Homo sapiens: one gene and its partner. The protein of the gene in region 1 purifies or fractionates together with the protein of each later gene. This does not show direct contact. Each region holds a gene or a part of one and is shown on either strand. Other genes may lie near its edges.

The links.
Region 2: the proteins of CASQ2 (region 1) and FBXW8 purify together in Homo sapiens (affinity purification with mass spectrometry; 3 studies listed by BioGRID and IntAct, with this or other methods). This does not show direct contact.

The regions. Positions count from the first base shown.
Region 1 is NC_000001.11:115,765,613-115,770,436, forward strand, and holds the start of CASQ2 (calsequestrin-2 precursor), read right to left. Parts: upstream 3,103-4,824; 5' UTR 2,930-3,102; coding exon 2,696-2,929; intron 1-2,695. UniProt on the Homo sapiens protein: Calsequestrin is a high-capacity, moderate affinity, calcium-binding protein and thus acts as an internal calcium store in muscle. Calcium ions are bound by clusters of acidic residues at the protein surface, especially at the interface between subunits.
Region 2 is NC_000012.12:116,983,950-116,987,449, reverse strand, and holds part of FBXW8 (F-box/WD repeat-containing protein 8), read right to left. Parts: intron 2,268-3,500; exon of another isoform or gene 2,245-2,267; coding exon 2,048-2,244; intron 1,797-2,047; exon of another isoform or gene 113-1,796; intron 1-112. UniProt on the Homo sapiens protein: Substrate-recognition component of the Cul7-RING(FBXW8) ubiquitin ligase complex, which mediates the ubiquitination and subsequent proteasomal degradation of target proteins.

The DNA.
Region 1 (4,824 bases):
AAGTAATAATAATAAGTATAGTTCATATGAAATTTTTGTTTCTGGTGTGTGTGTGTGTCTGTGTGTGTCTGTATATACTGGGTCATAGTCGGTTATGATAAAAAGTGTCAGAAGCCGCCTTAAGCTGCGAGGGGGAAGGGAGCTGCCTCCCCTCCAGCTATTTGTCCGTGGCTGAGACCACACTGCCTGTTGGATGGACACTGGGAACTGCCTCCTCTTTTCCCCCTACCCCCTAACAGCCACAGCCCTGGAAGCTGACAGACTATTTTTCTTAGTGCAAGTGTGGGGTCTAGAGGATTAAGAGGACAAAATAGATGTTTTGACCATGAAGAAAGTTTAAAGGCATGTTCGCTCTTTCCACTCATGGACTTCCCGGAGCCATTTTTTCCCTTGATGCTGCGCCTGACAAGTATCTCAACAAAGGCCCGCCCCTTCCTCAACCTTCACTAATGGAGCCCAGGCCTCCTCCTCAGTTTGCACTTTTGCATGAGCAGCGCCTCCAGGCCATGTACTTCTCGGCCATGCTGGTGTACAGCTGGCATCATCAGACCCGGGTCCAGAGGCTGAGCAACTCTGTTTAAGGAAGACTCTTGAAACCATCTTAAACAGGCTACCCAGAAGCCCCTTGGGCGTTTTCGCACTGATTTCAGGAGTAGTACCGTGTAGGTGTTACGTACAACTGCCTTCATCTGTAGTAGCTGTGTGACCTTGGACAACTTAGCCTCTCTGCTTCAGTTTCCACATCTATAAAATGGAATTGGTAACTGTACCTACTTAATAGAATTATTGTAAGGATTAAACAAGCTAACACATACCAAGTGCTTAGAACAGTCCCTGCACTTAGTAAGCATTTAATCAACATTATTATTATTTAATCATTTCTTAAGCTGCATGATAGTTACTATTTTTCCATATTTATAGATAAGAAAATGAAGCTCTGAGAAATTACGTAATTTGCCCTGTGTCCTGTGCCTAGTAGAGACAAAGCCAGAACTTAAATCCAGATATCCTGACTTCAAGGTCTGTGTTCTTTTTCTCCTAATGATGCCTCACTCCAGCTTTAGCAGCCTGAGGGGCATCAAATTAACTCCTGTGGTGAACTTTTCCTTATCGGTCTCTGCTGGGCCGGCACCCACTGTGAAAAGGGCACTCTTGGATCAAAGGTGTCTGGAGGGATGGTAAGCCCAGGGGAAGTTTCTGTTCATGATTTTGCATAGTCTTTGGGGACAGATATACTTGGGGGAGCTAGAGATGATAGATAGATAGATAGATAGATAGATAGATAGATAGATAGATAGATAGATAGAAGGATGATAGAAAGATATTTCTTTTTTAAAAAAAATTAGAATCAGAAATGAATGTCCTTGCCTGTACTGGCCACCCAAAGGCATTCTTTTGGAGTTCTAGGCTAACTGGACAGCGATGAGCATATAGGGGAGAATCCTTATGCCTTCAATTAAGTTTTCATAACAATGTCTCTTGATAACTGAGTATGGCAGTTTGAGATGGAGATATAATGTAAGTGTTGGTTTCATGTGCTAAGCAGCAGCTAAGTTCTATGTCTCGTTCTTTTCCAGCCTGTGATTTGCTCATTTCTATAAAATAAAGTCTTAATAACTATCCCTGCTTTCTCTTTTCTTGCAACCCACAGAGAGAACTGAAATTCCACATTCAGCACCCAAGGTTGGAGATATACTTTTGATGTATTTGGGATAGTTTTGCTGGATTTTATTACAGTCAATTTTTCAATTTGAAAAAATTCAAATCCACATGGGTTTTATATGATAATCCTATTAAACTATTTCATCAACCTGAGTTCTCTGATTGTGCTGGTTAATAAACTGTAATTCTCAAATATCCCTTTCACAGGTTTGCGCCTGGGCTAGGCGTGGAGACTGATGAGGCATCTTGGTGCCCACTAGCATTCTTGGCACCCTCAGGCCCTCTTAAAGTGTAAGCCATCTTAAGCTGTCCAGGAGGAGCTGCAGGAATAGTTTCTGGGGCACTCGCAAAGGATTAGAAAATGGGCCCCAGTGCCAGGTTACAAACAGGCAGGCCATGTAATGCGGATAAAATAAGAACTGACTTCAGCTCTGCCCTAAAGTCACACCAAGAACTTTCTGAGAAAAAAAATCACATAAATGAATATGCTGCTCAGAAGATCTGCACACAACTACATTCTGTAATGCTGACTGACGCAAAACAAGAGAGAGGAAAGTCATTTAGTGATATTCTCCGTCTGACCCCCAGAGAGACGCAAGGTCAAGTAACTCTGGTCTCTCCAGGATCATGGGGAGATTTGAGGGAGCAAAGTGGGCACACTGAATGAAATCCACAAGTAGTCCCTGGATTTCATTTCAGCCAACAGTTTTAACAATAGTTTCTACATTCTATCTGGGAAACAATGGCTGGGACAAGGGCCCTTGAAAAGTCAAGGGGGCCATAAAGACTTTACATCAGACCCATCGTAGTGTAGCACGTTTGGTCCTCTTCATTTGAAGAGTTAGGACCCACCCCTCATTGTTCACACATCCCAGCTGTGTGACAAGGGCATCTGATTCACGTGAGGCCAAAATAAAGCAGAGTTCAGTATATATTCTCTGCATCCTCGTTCCCATATCCCAACCCCTGGCCAAAGGCATTCCCTCGGCACCTCACTGAGGCAGCGCAGACAGCATGCCCTTTGGTTACTTACCTCAAGCACGATTTCTTTCAGTTGGAACTGTTTTTGCGTGACCTTATCTGAAGACACCGGCTCATGGTAGTAGAGGCAAAGCAAGTCATATTTCTTTAAAACCTGCTTGAAGTTCTTCTCGGAAAGACTTACCACTCGGTCCTTCCCATCATATGTGGGGAAATTAAGCCCCTCTTCTGCCCTGCAAGAGGACAGAAAATAAATCCCCACAATAAACAAGTGAGTTCTCTTCATTTGGGAAAACTTTTGTTTCTCGTTCCCAAATATGCTGTGTGCAGAATAGAGGACAGAAGACTGTTAGAGGCCTTGTTGAGCCAAGGAGAGAGCAGACAGGCTGATTTTCTCTCTTCTTTGCCCTTCCTGGGGCTGAAAAGTGACTCTTCACCTCCTTGGGTCCAGCCAGCTCTGGAATCGTGGGCTCAGGACAAAGAGCAGAGGCACACACACACACACACGCACGCACGCACGCACGCATGAGAGTAGAAAAACAGCCAAGCTAGGGAGGCTGGGAGGCCAAGCCCCAGATACCTTACATAGCTCTGCTCAGCCTCTGTCTCATTAGGAACTCCATTTTTAGGATGCAGTTGTTTCAGGCTAAAAATAAATCATGCAATGAATAAAAAAGTTAGATACGACACTGTAGAGGGATTCGCTGATACAGTCTGTCCGACTGGTGAAGAGGGAAGAGGCAGAAGGAAAAAGACAAGAATGTACACGCATGAAATAAGGAGGCTAGAAAGGTCAAAGAAGAGAAAGAAACTCGAGAGGGAGAGAGATAAGGGACTATGGTGCCAATAAGCAAATGGAGAGTTCAAACATACGGAATGACACTCATACATTACTGAATTGTTAAATCACCCCAGGGTGGTAACTCAGCCTGTCCCCTCACGGTGGTTGTTCATCCTCTGTTCCTCACTGCAACATGGAACAAAATGGAGCCCCGAGGTAGACTTCTTCATGTTCTACTCCTGTCTTTTTCTGCCTTCCCTCCTCTCTTCTTAAAAATCCTCTGCCAGCCACTGGGCGAGGGGTGCAGGGACACCCTGCTGAACCCAGCTGACACCAGAAGAACCTGTCCTCATTAAACTAAAATGAAACAAGGTTCACAGTTCAAATCCCTACTCTGCCTTTTAACAGCTAATGAACTTTGGAGGGTCACTTGCCCTCTCTGATTCTCAGTTCCCCTCTATGTAAAGTGGGGCTGATAATAACCATAAAGTTTCAAACACATAGATGAAAAAGCATGGCACAAAATAGGTGCTCAAAAATAGTAGCTATTATACTTACTTCTCATTGGAGCTGGTGGAACATTGGTTATATAATGGATATTTGTCTGTTTCTAATATGAATGGTTTGTGAACCCTTTCTTGTCCATTTTCTCCTTGAATCCAGTAGGCAATTGGGGCAAAAGGGATCAGGGCTCATCCTACCGCTGAGCTAACAGCAACTTGTCTGAGTTTGCAGCATTTCTAACTGCCGGAGCAAGAATCCAACCCTGCCTCAAAGCTGCTGCTCCTGGCTGTTTTGCCTCTGACTCTGGGTGATTCCCTTGCAGACACCCCTTTTCTTAAGTACCTTCTTGACCATCTCTTCCAGTCCAACCCTAGTCCAGTCATGTCTCTCCACTCTTCAAAGGCATCTAGGGCATTCATGATTCTGACCAAGTTTTTGTTCTCCTTCAGTTATAAATCAGCTTTGGAAAGACAGAGTACTCTGTCATGCACAGCTTCTGCAGGGGCTAGAAGGCAAAGAGAAGATCCGTGGCCTCTCTGAGTAAAGCAAGGCTCCCCTGCAGTCAGACGGCCTTACACTGAGAGTCAGGCTGATAAGGGGTTGTCTTGATGCTACACTCTCATGTGCAGAAAGTTGGGGCCTTGAAGAACCCATCACTAAAACCCTTGACGGTATTCCGTTCTTTCTAATGGTGTAGTCTCTAAGTTTTCAAAAGATGGAGCCAAGAATATCCATTCTAAGGTGCACTTAGCTTTCCAAGTCAGTGGCAAGCATGCAAGATCTCTGCTTTCTTTAGGAAATTTAAGGGGAAAAAGATTTCCGAGTGAAACAATGTGTGTCTTGTCTTTTTGAGGTCAGCCTCCCCAGACTGTTCCCAGTTGTCTCGATCTCACTGG
Region 2 (3,500 bases), on another chromosome or scaffold:
GTCTGAGACGCACTTTTCAAGAATAATTTGATTCTGTCCATCCACAGGCGGCCCATTTCTCCGCGGTGCCGTTCGCAACAGGCTTTCGCCTCTGCGAGTAAATCACGAGAGGACACATAGAAGGTGAGCCACACTAATTATGAAAATCCACAGTGTGAAAGGACAGCGCTGCCCTGACCATATGCCAAAGAGTTCAAAGCCGGCCTCCAGAACACGGTCCAGAAGAGCTGGAGGGAGCGTCAACATCCGGGGGACTCTGCTAATACTCGGGCCCAGCTCCGCAAGCTGCGGGTCCATCACAAAGGACAGCCGCACTAGGCTAATATCGCAGACCTGGGAACACTGCCACTGCCATTCAGGGGCGTATATGGACAAGACAAAACTGGCTTGGCTCTTCGGGCCAGGGGTGCCTTTTCCAAGGATACTCAGAGCATTTTGTGGGAACCTTTCACTCAAAGTGAAAAATAATTCCTAAAACGTGCATAAAACCCGCCTTGAACAATGGCTGCTCGGTTCCTCTCACTCCCCCAAATCATGTCTCATTTTCCTACAACTGATATCCTCCGTCTAGCCCTTTAACTTTATCTCCGTGTTGGCTTTCTGACAGACCAAGAGGCTCAGATTGACAGTGGTGGTGCCATTTGCTGGGGGCTGTAAACTAGTTCAAAAAGCTTCCAGTCTGTGCCAGGATGCCACCTTATTGCCAAGGCAGGATTTGCACTTTACAGAGAAACTGGCATCTTAAGTAAGTATCTGGGTCCATACAGTGATTGCTGGTCTACAGTATTCGTTTTTTTGTTGTTTTTTTGTCTTTTTTTTTTTTTGAGACGGAGTCTCGCTCTGTTGCCCAGGCTGGACTGCAGTGGCGATCTCGGCTCACTGCAAGCTCCGCCTCCTGGGTTCACGCCATTCTCCTGCCTCAGCCTCCTGAGTAGCTGGGACTACAGGCGCCCACCACCACGCCCGGCTAATTTTTTGTATTTTTAGTAGAGACGTGGTTTCACCGTGTTAGCCAGGATGGTCTCGATCTCCTGACCTTGTGACACAGTATTCTTTAATCACAGACTAAATAGTAAGTACTATGGAAGTTTTGAGAACAGAAATGTACTTTCACATTTTTCTAATAAAACCCAGATGAGCTGACAGCATCAGGCCATTTTAGGGGAGCACTATACTCAAAGTGCAGACGCTCCTGGAGGTGAAGCAGTGATGCCATGGCTTTCTAAGTTATTCTAGTCTAAGAAGATTCCCAACAGACAGAAAGAGGGAGGAACAGGATTGGTTCCAGGTCAGGCCCTCAATTCATCACTCAGTGTTGGCTTTTCTGCTCACTCTCCTACCAGTGCCAAAATCAAGTTTGTTTAAATTAAATCCTAACTCAGCATAGACAGATTTGAGCACTTCCTTCTTAACACCAAATCATCTCCCACTCTACAAATCTAGAGGTTCCTGTACCAATGAACTCAGAAATAAGCTCGACATAAAGAATTCTTAAGGCTGGCTGAGCTGCACACATGACATCCTGGAACATGGCTACCCAATTAACACCAACTTAAATCTATCTTCACGCAAGAGTTACTTTAAATTTCAGGTGAGACAGTCTTGGGATGAAGAAAGTGTAGGAATGGAAACCTTCCTTCCCAGATGGACTGGGATAACACCACTGAACTCATTCTCACTTATATATTAGGTCAAACTGATCTTTGATTCCCAAGGGTGAGATTCCACCGTGTTAGTCTGAAGAAGGCCAAGGAACCACAGTGATGAGCAGCTCTGGCCCTGAAGTCAGCCCTGAGGTTTGAATCGTAACTTCTTACCTCTGAGAACTGGGGCAAGTCAGTTCACTGCTCTAAGCAGCCTGAAGTGGCTTCTTGGTAAATGGGGAAAATGCTACTACCTATTTTGTAAGGCTGTAGTTAGACTTATGGAGGTAAGGCCCGCAGGAAGCTCTGAGTGAATGGGAGTTACCAACACCATTAGTACGTGCTTACATTAGACCCAGAGATTCTAAGAATAGAAAATAAGATGACCAGACTAAAAAGCTCACCAGTTTCGGAACTTCAAATTCCGCAGCTATCTGCCAGTACCCCTCCTCATTGGGGGATAACATCACGACATCAAAAGCAGAAGCTGTGGCCACGGTTGCATCGTCCTGGCTGAGGGCTAGTGCCTGTATTCTTGCATCGTGCTCAAAACGATGAACAGGGTACTTTCCGGTCCTTAAATCCCAAATATTAAGAAACCCTATGCAGCAAGAAACAATGCAGGTAACAATTTTAAATTTACTTAATATGTTCAATTATTTTAAAAACATGCAACACAAAGGAAAATTTTTTAACGGAGATACCTTGGAAATGAGACCCAAGTCTAAACACGAAATCACTTACGTTTCATATATACCTGATGCACATGGCCTGAAGGTAATTTTATACAATATTTTATTTTACTTTTTTATTTTTTAGAAACAGTGCCTCACTCTTCGCCCAGGCTGGAGTGCAGTGGTGCTATCATAGCTCACTGCATTTTTGAACTGATGGGCCTAAGTGATCTTCCTGCTTCAGCCTCCCAAATAGACAGGACTACAGGCGTGTGCCACCATACCCAGCTAATTTTTAATTTAGCTGAGACACAGTCTCACTATGTTGCCCAGGCTGCTTTTTTGAACTACTGGGGTCAAGCAATCTTCCTGCCTCTGCCTCCCAAAGTGTTGGAATTACACGTGTGAGCCAACGTACCTGGTCTATACAATATTTTAAATAATTCTGTGCATGAAGCAAAGTTTTGGCTGTGTTTTGGCTACAAACCCATCACATGAAGTTAGATGTGAAATTTCCTACATGTAGCATCATGTCAGTGCTTAAACAGTTTCAAAGCATTTTGGAATTTTGGATTAGGGATGCTCAGCCTGAATTTCACATCCTTCCTCAGCGCCATCCTCCTAAAGCCTCTGTTAGCAGCAGTGCTTTATTTTGCACAGCTCTAAAACCTGTGCTTCAATATCCCACACTTGCCAAAAATGCCGATTTTCCACTCTTCTCCCAGCACCTGGAATGCTGCTACCCAGATTAATTCCTCTTTCACACACTGGCCACACACCCTTTCTCCAGGGTGGTTTCCAGACCGGTAGCATCAGTACCACGTGGCGACTTATTAGAAATGCAGACTGTCAGGCACCAGTAACTCTGGGGATGTCCACTGGAGTTTAGGACCAGTGGTCTACAGGAGCTTATGCTTTTCCAGTCAGATAACCTTTTCTGTACTTAGCATTTCATTGATTCTTCTTTCCTCAAAAATAATTTCTTTTTATCATTCCCAAGCTATTTCCTTCCCTTCGAAGATTTACCCAAGAAAATGATTACTCTCTGCATTAGGCTGGTTAATGCCTTGCTCCAATTCCAATTGATTCAATTTTTCAAAATTCACCAAGAAATAAATGTGTGGAGATAACAGTTTGTGACTATTTGAGTTCAAATCCAGCTCCAGCACTTGTTAGCTGACGG